Regions from separate parts of the Homo sapiens genome. Here region 2 is linked to region 1. The links come from fine-mapping of genetic effects on gene expression. Tissue or cell type: whole blood. Region 1 holds a variant in brackets; the other region holds the start of a gene. All regions are shown on one strand. Distances are between the middles of the regions.

Region 1 (2,760 bases):
GTGTTTTCCTTTGGGAATTCAGAGCAAACCAAAGATGAGAATTCTTCAAAGTCCACATTTAGTTTTAGTATGACAAAACCATCTGAGAAGGAATCTGAACAGCCAGCAAAAGCCACTTTTGCCTTTGGAGCTCAAACTAGTACTACAGCTGGTAAGTATTAACTTTTTATTATTATTATTATTATTTTTTTTTTTACAAGTTGTCGTTTTACAAGTTGCCTTGACAGATGCAGCAAGTCAATTAATGGTTTACACTGAACATAGTTGAGAAATACAGAACTCTTTGGGAAGGAACCTAGGATTTTCAGTTTGAACTGCTCTTTAAAACCCTCATGATTCTGGTGAAGTCATCTGTGGATCTAATTTTGAGAAATACAGCAGTAATGCAAAGCTCAATATAGTGCATATTTATGTGTGTCTTTCTCTTCTGTTTGGGCTTTTATAATCAGAATTGGTATCTACTACCTGGAAAATAAGGATTCTTAGCTTATGAAGTATTTTCTACCATAATCTATGGGAAGGCCTTTATTTACAAATAGTTACAGATAACCAGTCCTCATCAAACATTAAGAAACATAGACAACAAATATAATTAATCCTGAGAAAACAAGAGATTTTGAAAGCTGAAGTCCTGGGGAAAAAAATGACATAGCACCTTAAAGGTTAAAAGCATGATTGTTGGTGGATCCTATTAAAGTCATTCTGTGAGCTGAATAGCAGGAAGAACTTCATAGCTGATAATCAGATTAGTGAACTAGAATTTCCCCAAACTTAGTGCACCAGTACAAAGAGTGATCCAAGTTAGATCCACAAGTTCCTTTGGGATAGGAGTGGCCTAGAAGATAAGAAGTTTTGGGGAAATATCAAAGAAGTGACAGAAGAAAATTTTCTAGATCTAAAGAAAGACATTGGTCTTAAAAATGGAAATTACCTATTGGCAAAGATCACTGAAATTTAGGACACCAAAGCTAAAACCCCAAATGCTTTCAGAGAGAAAAGCTATTTGCCACAAATAGGCAGGTATCAGATTAGCATCATCTTCTAATTTGTAACATCACATGCTAAAAACAACAGTGCCCTTAAAGTGAAAATGTTCTTGAACCTAGAATTCTGTTACTAGCCAAATGTGTTTAAATATAAAGACAATCCGGGTGCCGTAGCTCACACCTATAATCCCAACTAGTCGGGAGGCTGAAGCACAAGAATCTCTTGAACCTGGGAGGCGGAGGTGGCAGTGAGCAGAGATTGGCCCAGTGCACTCCAGCTTGGGCAACAGAACAAGGCTCTGTCTCAAGAAAACCCAACAACAACAAAAAAACACCAACACAAAGGCAAAATACAGATGTTTTTAGATGTGCAAAAAATGCAAAAGTTGAATATCCATGAATACTTTTGAATAATAAATTGGAAACACTCAAAATTAACCTTTAAAAAGTATGGAATTCA[A/G]CAAATAGCTATGAGCAGTTTTTTGTCTGTTATATATTTACTTAGAAATATAAAGACAAAATCAAAACTAAAATTACATATTATTTGGAAAGCAACAAAAACATGATAGGGTCTAATCAGATTTGATGATGAAAACACCAGGCTATGGTAGACACTCTTAACCATTCTTCCATTAGCCAGGTTGAAAGTAAGCCAACATGTTCCATTTTCTGTAAGTCATACTAATGCCCATAGTGTACTGTGACCAGCCCTGGATAGTGTGCGGTATTGGAACTGAGAGATTATTGGAATAGTTTAGAAAAAAATCTTCAATAAGGTGGCTGGATTCAGAATCACCATATAAAAATCAAAAGTTTTTCTTCAAATCAGCATGTCTCATTTGTTTTTCCTAACATTTCTAACTTGTATTTTATAAAAGCAGCAGAACTTGTAACATGCCAAATAACTAAAAGAACACAAAAGGCATACTTGTTGCTGGGTGAAGGTATTCCCTTCCTCCTCCCATAATTTTAGTTCTTAGGGGAATTTTTGTAGAGCTTGACAAGCTAAACTTATTCTAAAATTCACATGGAAAGGAAACCACACAAGAAATTTTGGGAAGAAGGGCAGGCACACAGGCAGCTTTGTCCTACTAATATCAGTCCATGGTATAAAGTTATAATAATTAAAACAGTCTAGTGATAACAGTAGAGGAAACAAGTATATGCATTTTAGGAAATGTAGTGTGTGATAAAGACAGCATTGCAAATTAGTGCACAAAGGCTGTACTAGTTGATGCTGTGGAGAAACTTGGCTATCCATTTAGATAAATTGAAGTTATGATTTTGCCACATACTGTAATATAAATTGCAAAATAAAACATATAAAAGTACAGCTGTCTTCCACTATCTAAGCTTGCTATTCAACTACAGTATCCAGTTAGATTTGGATTCGAGGTGTATTTTTATTAACCTGAATGCCAAAGGCCTTCCTATGAAAGGCCTAAAATCCATAAGCTATAAAAGAAGATGAATGTATTTGACTTTGTCAAAATCTAATATAAACAGATGTCCATTTGATGAAGTAATCTATATAAAAAATCTATTTTCTAGCGAATTCTAGGGTAGGAAAATTCTAGCAATTGTAGGGTAGGAAAAAGTACTTTCTGAGACTATTCTTAAGGATTTATGTTTGTTTCTTAATTTCTGTCTTACAGATCAAGGTGCAGCAAAGCCAGTTTTTAGTTTCTTGAACAACAGTTCCTCTAGTTCAAGTACACCAGCCACTTCTGCTGGTGGTGGCATATTTGGTAGTTCCACCTCTTCCTCCAATCCA
Region 2 (2,760 bases), 27 kb after region 1:
TGGGATCAGAGGCATCAACTAGTTCTTGTCCCATCTATCTGTGGCTAACTAAAATAAACTAAAAGTCTAATAGTTTAAATAGTAAACTAAGAAGTGTAACTAATTCAAAATATTCTAGTTCACACACAGAAGCAAAAACAATTACACAATATACAAGATATTGATCAAATGAAGTGAAGCTTTGACCCAATCAAAACTTCCTAACTCCACTTGTATCCATGTCGATCTCCTTTTATATCCGTTCAGTTCCACTGTCCTAAGTAGCCAATGTCTGAATAATTTTCAGCATTACCAGTCGAGCCCCTCCAAAAGTGGGTTTGCCATTTGCGAATTTAGCTTTGGCCCTCACTGCAGAGCGTGAAAACCAAAGGAAGAGGATGGTTTGAAGAGCAATTTCTTTTCACGAATAAACAACTAGTCCCATGAGTAAGGGAGTCAATTTGGAGTGCCAGGTCTAAAGGAAGAAGAAACTGTATTGCCTCCTTGTACATTTTGGGAATTTAGGGCCTGGACAAACGATAGCTAGTGAACTGAACGGGCAGGATAGTCAATCAGAGTAGAAGCAGCAGTTACAGGTCTAAAAAGCGTGCCAGCTCTACCCCACAGGCCCCCGAAAACCCTTCTACTCCGCCCAGCCTCCACCTCGCGCTTCTCACCTGCCTGTCGCCCGGTCTCGCTCGGGCTTCGCGAAGGGGCTGCGGATCCTACCCTCGTCACTGGAGTGGCCCGGACCGACGCCTGCACGTGAGGAGCCCGGGGTCCCAGGCCCGCGACTGGAGCAGGGGTGCTGATGCCGGCAGCTGTCCGCGGGTCAGGCCCCGCGGCCCCGGGGCTCAGGAAGTAGAAGGGGTTGTAATAGCCCAGCTGCGGGGGCGGCGGCGCCGCGGCCTGGGGGACTGCAGCGCCGCCCGAAGGGAAGCTCTGCGGGGAGGGCTGGGGGCTGCAGTAGGCTGGGAAGGCGGCCAGGCCGCTGTGCCAGGTGAGGTAGCCGCAGTAGGACTGCCACAGCCACTCGTGCACTTGCCGGGAGTACTCGCGGGCGCTCAGCCGAGCTGGTCTCTCTCGTGGCGCCGCGGCTTCGGGCGCCTCGCAGCCCGCCTGCTCCTGCAGCTCTGCACCGGAGCCGGAGGCCGCCTCCCCGCGCTTCCTGAGCTCGCGCGGCGGCTCCAATTTGTCGGCTGCGGCGGCAGCCGCGAGGCCCGGGGCTGTGGGCCGGCCCGGGGCCTGGGGTTCGGCCTGGGGGTCGTCGCGGGGGCATGGGACGGCGGTGGTAGGAGGGCCTCTCAGGGAAGGGACGGGCTCGTGGTCCCCTCCGCCATCGTCCTGCCCGGGAGGGTGGCCTCGGGCTTCCTCGGGCCCCTCGGCCATCGTCGCCTCAGCAGCACCCTCTGGGATACCTGTCACTGCTCCGTTTCCCTCCCCCAATGGCCCCTCCCCAACAGCCCCGTCACCACCGCAGCAACCGCAGGCGTCAACAATCCCCCGCCGGAAGCGGAAGCCCCGCCCCTCAGGAGCAACGCCCGCCGCCAGGCGGAGCTGGGAAGGGAGGGCGGGGAGGTGCGTCTGCAGTCCCGGGTTCGGGCCCTAGTAGTCGGTGGCTGGTCGGTGACTGGGACCAGACCGTCGCCTCCTCCCTTTTACAGCTTTAAGTCTGTGACCCGAGGCCTCTCTGTATATTCCCGTGGGGTTGGGCCTAGTTGTCCTGGGAGAAACTAGATGGATGAGGAGTATTTCCGAGACAGGTCCCAGGGCCAGCGCAGCCTTTTCTGTTGCAGAACCGCGACTGTTGTTTTGGGATCCAGGCCGGAGGGTTTGTTGCTTGTGTTCATTCCAGTTAACCATTAGTACTCGAGAAGGTGGTACAGAACGCATCTATCCCCTTAGAAGAAAAGAAATTAAAAGCCAAACTAAACTGGGATATATATTAATATAGGAAACTACCACTGAGACATAGGAAAGTGTATTAAAATATAACTAGTGAGGTGCTATGTATAATTCAGAGGAAGGGGAAATTATGCATGGGCCAGACTACTAACAAAAGGCTCCAAAGCCTGGGATACGCTGAGGGCCTTTCCATAACAGAAAATGAAAAGGAACCTAAATTTGAGACTAGATTTGAGGAAAGGCACAGTTGCGCTGGAGTAGAAAGCGTCTGTCTACCGCAGTGGAAAGTAAGTTTTCGTAAATGCAGACTAGCTCCAGGGTGAGGACAGAATCTAGCTTTTAAATCAGTATAATCTCTCTTCTTTTACATTTGAAAATCTCTGCAGCGATATGTTATTGTATCCCCAGCACCATACAAAGGACATACAAGGGCCAAATACTGTGGGAATATTTATTAATGATATTAATGATGATGCTGTCCGGGCCAAAGGAAAACTTCCGCTTCACCTTCTGAAGTTTCGCTGAAAGTCACTGACAGGAGGCAGTTAATAGGAGAAAAGACATAGACATTGATTTGACCATCGTTTTATGTGACACGGGAGCCTTCAGAATGAAGACCCAAAGATAACAAGGGAAATCGTGTATTTGTATGCTTAGGTTCAACAAAGCATGGACAGCCGTATAAAAAAATGACTGGACAAGGCCGGGCGCGGTGGCTCACGCCTGTAATCTCAGCACTTTGGGAGGCTGAGGCGGGCGGATCACAAGGTCAGGAGATCGAGACCATCCTGGCTAACACAGTGAAACCCCGTCTCTACTAAAAATACTAAAAATTAGCCAGGCGTGGTGGCGGGCGCCTGTAGTCCCAGCTACTCA

Evidence for each region. PIP is the estimated chance that this variant, and not a neighbour inherited with it, causes the effect.
Region 2: it holds the start of FAM8A1, and the variant in region 1 is fine-mapped to the expression of FAM8A1 in whole blood (INTERVAL, PIP 0.98).

Annotation. Positions count from the first base shown.
Region 1 is chr6:17,626,046-17,628,805 of GRCh38, reverse strand. NUP153 (nucleoporin 153) reads left to right here. Exons shown (of 22, transcript NM_005124.4): 18 at 1-151; 19 at 2,642-2,760. Among named protein-coding and RNA genes, the nearest start is that of FAM8A1, 27 kb to the right of the region's middle. The variant A/G (reference allele first, on the strand shown) is at 1,447.
Region 2 is chr6:17,599,018-17,601,777 of GRCh38, reverse strand. It overlaps FAM8A1 (family with sequence similarity 8 member A1), which reads right to left and starts at 1,476. Exons shown (of 5, transcript NM_016255.3): 1 at 657-1,476. The coding sequence starts at 1,368. RefSeq lists an enhancer at 1-71 and a silencer at 1,138-1,617.